Linked DNA regions of Homo sapiens: region 2 is linked to region 1. Evidence: fine-mapped expression QTL. A gene starts in region 1. The other region holds a variant in brackets. All regions are shown on one strand. Distances are from middle to middle.

Region 1 (4,394 bases):
CTCCATCTCCGAAGGGGAAAAGCGACAAGGACAAACCGCAGCCTCAATACATCAAAGGCTGAGCTGGCACTACAGCCCATACATCATCAAGTTCACGGACACCCCTAGATGGCTCCGTGACACGGTCAAGGTCCTTGGGAACTCCCACACATTTCTATACTCGGCACACCGATCACCTCTCTTCAACTGACCTCTAGCCAACCTAAGATCCTGGTGGGAAGATTTATGAAAGGCAGTAAAATCAAGACAAGCAGGGAACCTGCGTAACCCCTTTAAGTCTCTAATGAAACAAATGCAATCCCTTAAGATATTTCTTAAGGAAAAGCTAGAAGATGCCTCTAATCGCAACTTGTTTCCAGAAAAGCTGGAAGGGCACCACTAAGACAAGGCAAAAAAAAAAAAAAAGGCAAAATATCGGAAAGTCTTATGCTGGAAGCGGGGGTGGGGAGGCGGGGGACAGGCAGACAGGGCTAGAAACACCCAAATCAATTCCTCAGGGAGCGAAACGGCAGAGGCCGGCAGCCCGCGGCCCACGTGCACTTGCTCAGGGAACCGTTCCAGCGAAACCTGACCCGGATCGGAATCCTCCCGCAGCACAGCGGCCGTGTTTATCGGAATGGAACGCTACAAGTTGTCACCTGCATCCCTCTCCCAGCTTTGACAGGGAACACGCGCTGCCCCCACGCCCACACCGACACCCGGATCCCTATCCAGCCCGGCCAGAGTCCCAGGGGCCAGGGACCAGTGCAGGGAGAAGGTCCCCCACCTCAGCCCTCAGGACCCCCAACCACAGCCCACCCGCCCCCACCCTGCTCGGTTCTAGGCCCAGCCGAACCTACATGTCCCCGTAGTGTCGAGCGTTATCATCCACAGTCGCCCCTCAAACTGTGACCCCCACCTGGGAGACCCGGAATCATCCAGGACCCTGGTGTGGGGGGCAGTACTCCCCATATCTGCCCCCCGAAAACTGCTATGGAGCAGCCGCGCCTCGGCGGGCAGGTGAGGGGGCCGAGCCCACCAGCGCCGCAGCCCCGCTGCCTACCTTCTTCAGCGCCGGCTGCCGCTCCCGGGCAGACATCGCCGGCCCTGACTTTGGGGCTGACACCGCCAAAGGGCAGTCAGTGCTCGCCCAGGCCACTTCGGGAGGCCCAGGGGCACGGCGAGGGGTCGGGGAAAGGCGATCGCCCACTACAGCCCGCGCGCCTAGACTGAGGGAGGAGCCGGGCTGCAGAACCGGCGGCGGATGGAGACGGGAGGGAGGCTGCGAGGTCGCTCGAGGAGAGACTAAGGCTCTAGAAACGGAGAAGCGGGCGCTCTGCGGGAGGCGGCGGCGCTGCCGCTGGCCGTCAAGGGCGGGAAGTGTTCTGGGACTCTCATTAGGGGCCGCGAGCCTCGAGCGTCAAATTCCCGCGGCGTCCGCCTAGCGCGCTGCTGTGGCGGGCGCGGAGGGCGCGCGCCGGCAGTGGGGGCTGCGGCGGCGGAGGGCACGGGCCCCCGCTCAGCGTCCTCACCTTCTTGGTGCAGCTGCCTCCCGCGAGCCGAGACACTCCTGTCAGGGAAGAGGAGCGCCCCGGCTGTCCCCCTAGAGTCTCCTGCTGGGGGGACATCGCTTCCATGAAGAAAATCTTCAAACAAATCCCAGCCCAGGAGGAGGCTACACGATCATGTCCGCGGGCTGCCGGCCGGAGGGGCGAGGACGCGCGGGCGGAGGCGCGGCTGCCGTGCTCAGGCAGGGAGCCGAGCTCCGGGTGCTCGCCGCGCGCCTCCCGTCGGGGCCATGTACCTCCGCCTGCGCTCGACACCGCGGGCTGGAGGCGAGTGCAGCGGCGACAGCCCGTCAGCGCCGCGGCCCGCCCCGCCTCGGGCCCGCCCCCTCCGCTCCGGGCGCCCTGCGCCGGGGCCCGCCCCCGCAGCCCTCCTCAGCCCTCCTCCAGCCTGGGCCCTCCTAGCCTCGTCCCAGCCTGCGGCGCGCCTGGCGGGCGTCTCTCTATATATGTTAGCACACCGGCCACCGGCTGACCTTTTCGGTCTGTGACTCCGCGTGGGTGCAGCCCGCAGGAGCTCATCGGCCTGTGTCACGCACGGGGGCCTCTAGTGCACGGACACGCGCCTCTCCCGCCACCTGCCCACTCCCACCAGACCCCATCCCTTCCCGCGCCGTGCCCGCGGCGGAAGGCGCCCCTGCAGCGCGTGCATCCGCGGAGCGGTGGCGACCTCAGCCTGAGCAGAGGAGTTGCAGTGATTCCTGCCTCGCTTTCAGCGGACTGCGGAGGGAATCCCCCACCCCACCCCACTGGGGATAGGGTGGCACGTCGCAGAGTGTCGCAGCTGTACAAATTTGGAAGCCCACAGCATCGCCTGACCTCTTGTGCAATCCCGAACGCTAGCCTGTTCGGGTAACCCTGAGTGGGCTTCTGCAGCCGGTCATGTCAGCGGCCCCTGCACATTTGCACCCGCGGTTTCCGCTGTCTGCAGGCTGCAGAGACGGGGGCATTCCAAACGTGAAAGAGCAATGAAGGAAAATGCAGACAGAGCGAGGACGCCGAAATTTGGCTAAGCTATTGAGAAGGCTACAATATGTGGAAGTGTTTATCAGATATCTGCGCCGAGAGCATAACTTCCTGTCAGCCCAAATAGAGGCAAAAATATTTTAAAGGCCAAAGAATAATCAGAGGGAGAGGATTTGGAGCTGACCCGCGTTGAGCTGAGTGTTGCTGCACTTTGCGGGGCTGGTTGACTGGTACGGATGATTCGGTAGATGGCATTCTTCCCTTGGAGTCAGGACTAGAGAAGCAGTGGCGGATTAGTGAGGAAGGACACCACGCTATGATATTAGGTTGTGGAAGGGGTTTGGTTTGCTTTTGTGGTAAGAAGAAAAAAATCGAGGTTCCTGCCAGGTTAGGCTGTTATTAGGACAGGTTGTAGAAGAATAGGGCTCTGGCCGGCTCTGTTCCAAGGAAGGGATGCTGTCCAACACACACTCGCGCGCGCACACATCACCACCATGCCCAGGAATGGTTTATTGTGGAAATAATAGGGGGAAAATGTTCCAGCCCGTTTTAAGCCTTGTCCACCTCACACTGTTTAAAGTAGGCTTACATAGGCTTTATAAATCACACACACGTATAAATCACACACACGTATAAATCACATGTATGATTTGTAAATCATCTATTATTGTGTTTATGTATGTGTGCATATACACACACAGTTTTTCATGGCTACTCTCTTTTTGCAGCTGAGACCCATGTGCAGCGACAGGACTTTGCCCCCACCATAGAGTTTGTCATGAATTCTACACGCAGAGGGCTTTGCAGTTCCTTTCATTCCTTGCTGAAATCATCCACTTACAACTCGTTAGCCTCTTTTGGTTCCTATCATAAATGCACGCTCCCAATTTTCCTTACTCTGTTTTATTTCGATAACACTTATCTCCTTCTAATATATCATGTAATTTACTTAGTATGTTTAGTGTTTATTATCTATATCTCAGAGAAATGCAAGCTTCCAGAGGGCAGGAATCTTTTGTGGGCTTTTGTTGTTGTTGTTGTTATTGTTGTTCTTTGTCGTATACCAAGTGCTTGAAGCAGTGTCTGGTGCAATAAATGTTCGTTTGCTAAGGGAATTAATGAGGCATACAAGGGTTATGAGATAGATCTTAGAAGGGCCAGACTGGTAGAGTTGGTTGTTTCACTCAGAGTGTCCCATGTTTCTGTTTGTGATCTTCTTTTTTGCACAGGTTTGATCTGTGATCAATACTACATGTTCCAAATCAAAGTAGTATTTTACTGCAGATTTGGAAAACTCACTCTTACTTCTTAATTTTTAAGTGCTTTTACTTCAAAACCCATTAGTTTTGGTTTGCATAGAAAACTGTCCCATACCTAAAGAAAACTGACTTTGCTCAGATTAATGCTATCACCAGAATCGTGTTTTAAGAACACAAATTTGATCACATCACTCCCCTGATTAAACCCTTCTTTGGCTCCTTGTGTTTACAGAATAAATTTCAAATGCCATAGTATGATATGCAAGACTGCCTATAAACAGACATCCTTGCCTCCACTTATTTCTCTTGTCATTTATTGCTCCTCTTCAACTCTCACCCTATTCCCTGTCACATTGAATTCGCCAAGAAGTCACCTTCCAAGAACTCGCCTTGCCTTCTCACATCTTTGTGACTTTGAACCTGCTGTTTGCATTGCGTGGGAAGTTTTCCTTCTATATTTCCAACCCCTATTACTTTACACTTAAATATCTAATACTTGGTGCATAGTAAATGCCCAGTAAATATTTGTTGAGGAAATAAATCTCCCAGATTTGAATCAATAATTACCTTAGAAAAATCTTCCTGACTTTATTTCTCCTTATCTAGCTACCTCCACACACCAACC
Region 2 (4,394 bases), 230 kb before region 1:
ATATGGATGGTAAATAAGCACATGAAAACATGCTCAGGAAAATGCAAATTAAAATCACAATGAGATGCTACTACATATCTTTAGAATATTTAACATTAAAAAGATTTACAGTATCAAGTATTGGTTAGGATATTGAAGAATTGGAATTCTTATATGTTGCTGGAATGACCACTTTGGAAAACAGTTTCTTAAAGAGTTCAACAAAAAATATAACTCAGTAATTCTGTTCCTAGTGGAATGAAAACAGGTGTTCATACAAAGACTTGAACAGGAATGTCCAGAGCAGCTTTATTGTAATAGCCCCAAACTAGAAACAACCCAAATATCTATCAACAGGGGAACAGATACACAGATTTTTGACATATTCATATAATGAAATACTTCTCAGCATTAAAAGGAATAAACTACTTATACATACTAAAACATAAATGAATCTCAAAATAACTACAGAGTGAAATATACCAGACAGAAAGGGAGTATATAGTATATGATTCCATATATAGATATACGATTCTAGAAAATGCAAATCAATTTATAATGACAGAAAGAAGTTGTGGTTGCCTGGGTAGGCAGGGATTGGATTGGGAGCTTACAAGGAACACAAAGAAACTTTGGGGTGATAGACATTTTTACTATCTTGATTGTGGTGATAGTTTCAACTTATTGTATACTTCAAATATAGTTTATGTAAATTATACCTCAATAAAGCTATTGTTAAAAATCTGCTTTAGACAGATTTTCTCTAAAGTCCTATTTTTGGCTTCCCACCACTGTCAAGTTCTTCTCTTGGTCCCTTCCCCATCATCACTTGATTCTTCTCTCTTTTCCTTCATTTTCCACCTCCCCTCCCACCCTCTGCATTTCAATAACAGAGTTCCTCTCCTTGTCTCATGCTGAGCAGTTATGCTCTTGTTCTTGAACTTGAATTTGTGACTCCAGCTCACAAATGGACCCTTGCCTCTTATCATCCATCTTGTACTTCAGTACGCAAGTGCTGGAGCCAAAGTGCATGGATTCAAAAGCTATACTCTCCTACTTCCTAGCTGGGAGCTTCAGCAAGTTCCTTGCCATCTCTATACTGTGAACAAATGTGAACCTAAAAACGTCCTTCGAGATGGATCCTGGGTGGCTAAGCCAGTCCTTCAAGATGGAGCCCAGGTGGCTAAGTAGGCCTAAATTTAAAAATAAAGCCAAATGGCCATACTCTGAGTTTCCAGAAAAATCTCACCTCTGCTTAACTTGGGGACTTCAGAGCTCACCAGAGCCAACTAATCAGGGCTCAGCTATATCAACCAATCAAGGATCAGTTGTATTGACCAATCAGAACTCAGCTGTGCCAACCAATGAAAACTAGGCAAGTTTGAAACTTTCATTTGGATAAACAGATTTGATTGGGTAGCTGGGCAGGAACTTTTGCTATAAAACTGGAAACTTCCCTTTGTTCTCTGGAACATGCCTTAATTTTACAGGTTTGCAAACTGTTATCTCCCACATGATAGTAAAATTAATAGTACTTGTCTTTTAACATTTGCTGTGAGGATTAAATGAGTTAATAAATAGAGAATGTTTAGAATATCTGGCATGTAGTGAGTATTCAATTATTATTATTACTATTATATAGTAATAGAGCAATTATTGTTACTTTTAGGACTTAAAAGCATTTTTCTAAGTTTAGAACAATTCCTCCCTTAAGGGGAATTATGACAGTAGAGAAAGAGTTCAGTAAATTATGGCCCATCAACTGAGTGGAATATTACATGTACCTTAAAAAAAATGATCCTTCCTATGAGTCTATAATAATTTCGAGAAATGCTTGTTACATGAAAATATAGTAGGTTCTATAATCATACATACAATGTCATCTCAACTATACTCAAAAGTCCAAACAAAAATTATGCACAGAATAAAGACTGAAAGGAATTATGCTAAAATATTAACAGCTACCTTTCATAATGGGGAAAAAAAAGTGTCTTTTTTCCCTCCACAAAGAATCCTCTCATTATTAGTGAATGCCTCTGCAGGGGAGCTGTGGACACCCTATACTTTTATTAGTTAACCTCTTATCTAGCCACGGCTCGGCAGGAAATACAGCAATGCAATCTAGGGTTGGAGGAATATGTTTGAAGGGGAGGAGAGAAGATGAAAGAAGAGATACATAAATGAGGAAGAGGCCGCTGTGGGGAAAATGGGAAATGCCAAGGAAATTTGTGCTTTCCCATTGCACCTGGATTCAGGAACATTCACTCTCCTGCAGCAGCATCACGAAGACATGTCCAGCCAGCCTGTTGCTGAAAATTATGCTGGTGCTGTCTTATGCAGAGATCCCTAAGGCAGAGGCCCGTGACGCCCATGGTGTCTGCTTATCCATTTCTCTTTGACTTGACACCTGTGTCTGTGGGAAAGGATATTACTCATTCATGATGGTAGCTGCAAAGACTATGATTAGATTATTAATAAACTGCAAAAATCATTTCCTGATCTTCCATCCCAAGCAGAAATTCAGCTTTTGTCACACTGACAACG[T/C]TTTGACCCTAGCTTCTCCTTTATCTATGCATATTTAGTTGCAGGGAGAAGAAAACCTTCCTCTTCTTTCCTGTCTCTTGCTCTGTGATTTTTGTGGTGAGTAACTTATTTTTCTAATCACGCATGTAGCTCATGAGCTGAAGCAATGCAAGGAGTTATCTTGGTTCTTGGGTGCTGGTTTCTGGTCAGCCAACCGTTTGTTGTCTGGAAGGGTTGGTGATTTTAGCTATATGTCCCTCTTAGTCAGACTAATTAGATCCGTAGCACTGTGAAGCACATCTTACCAGGGAATTTGCAGATCATGCTTATATCTATTAACTCTACCTCCAAGGCTAGGAAACAGGAGACTGCCCTAATGTCCATGGACACTCTTTCACTTTTTCTCCCTAAATCAAGAAAATGGAGCTTATATTATTTAGGCCGCCGTGTTGGAAATGTTGGTCTCACTCTTTGAGGGAGCCAACTGATGAAAAATATTTGGAACATTTCCATGGGGCAGCCTGGCTAGAAACCATCCAAAAATTGCTGACAGCCAGCCTGGGGTATGCCTACCTGGTCTCCCTCTGAGTAGCTCAGGGCCAGCTGGAGGGAGAGGGTGTGCCCAGTCACCACACTGCAACCCTGACAAAGGGAGGTCATCACTAAGGGCAATCTGAGGCTGTTGTATTCGAAACCAATTATTTCATTTTTTTCTTCTTTAACTTTTAAGTCCTGAGGTACATGTGCAGGATGTGCAGGTTTGTCATATAGGTAAATGTATGCCATGGTGGTTAGCTGCACAGGTCAACCTATTACCTAGATATTAAGCCCAGCATCCATTAGCTATTCTTCCTGATGTTCTCCCCTCCTACCCACCACTGACAGGCCCCAGTGTGTGTTGTTCCCCACCAAGTATGTCCATGTGTTCTCATTGTTCTGATCCTACTTATAAGTGACAACATGCAGTGTTTAGTCTTTTGTTCCTATGTTAGTTTGCTGAAGATAATGGCTTCCAGCTCCATCCATGTCCCTGAAAAGGACATCATCTCATCCCTTCTTATGGCTGCATAGTATTCCATGGTCAAAACAGTTATTTTAATTTTCCCCAATTATTAAAACATACAAAGTCATTTTTGCATTGGAAAATACAGAAAGAAAAATGCAGTTGTAAAACTTAATATTTTGGGCCAGGTGCGGTGGCTCACGCCTGTAATCCCAGCACTTTGGGAGGCCGAGGCGGGCAGATCACATGAGATCGGGAGCTCAAGACCTGCCTGACCAACATGGTGAAACTCCATCTCTACTAAAAATACAAAAATTAGCCAGGCGTAGTGGCAGGCGCCTGTAATCCCAGCCCTCAGGGGGCTGAGGCAGGAGAATCACTTGAACCTGGGAGGTGGAGGTTGCAGTGAGCTGAGATTGTGCCATTGCACTCCAGCCTGGGTGACAGAGCAAGACTCTGTCTCAAAAAAAAAAAAAAAAACCAAAAAAAAACCTTAATATTTTGTAATATTTTCTTTTGAAATATTTTATTGTCCTTTTTTCTACCATAGTCAAACAAATACAATGTATAAAATGTTTATGTCCTGCTTTTATTACTTCATGTGGCCTGAATATTTTCATATAGTGTTAAAGATACTTTGCAATAATCAGTTTTAATGGCTGCTTAATTTTCTCTCCTGCTGTAGTTTCTTTAGCAATTCTTCTATGGTTGGGCATTTTTCATATTATGAATAGTATGAGCCAGGCATGTTGATACACTCCTGTGGTCCTAGTTACTCGAGAGGCTGAGGTGGGAGAAATGCTTGAGCCAGGAGTGATCATGCCACTGCACTCCAGCCTGGGTGACAGGGCGAGGCCCCATCTTTAAAAAAAAAGAAAAAACTTAAAAA

Which allele goes with the higher level. Alleles are on the strand shown, and positions count from the first base shown. SD is a standard deviation of normalised expression in the study named.
As copies of T replace C in region 2, the expression in monocytes after LPS of the gene that starts at base 1,822 in region 1 goes down (large effect, 1.0 SD a copy in Quach 2016).

The links. PIP is the estimated chance that this variant, and not a neighbour inherited with it, causes the effect.
Region 2: its variant is the best candidate, but not a certain one, in a credible set for the expression of ARHGAP20 in monocytes after LPS (Quach 2016, PIP 0.61).

The regions. Positions count from the first base shown.
Region 1 is chr11:110,710,616-110,715,009 of GRCh38, forward strand. ARHGAP20 (Rho GTPase activating protein 20) reads right to left here and starts at 1,822. Exons shown (of 15, transcript NM_001384657.1): 1 at 1,512-1,822. The coding sequence starts at 1,616. RefSeq lists enhancers at 41-686, 1,669-2,170 and silencers at 1,694-1,753, 1,774-1,933.
Region 2 is chr11:110,483,755-110,488,148 of GRCh38, forward strand. No RefSeq gene overlaps it. Among named protein-coding and RNA genes, the nearest start is that of FDX1, 56 kb to the left of the region's middle. The variant T/C (reference allele first, on the strand shown) is at 2,524.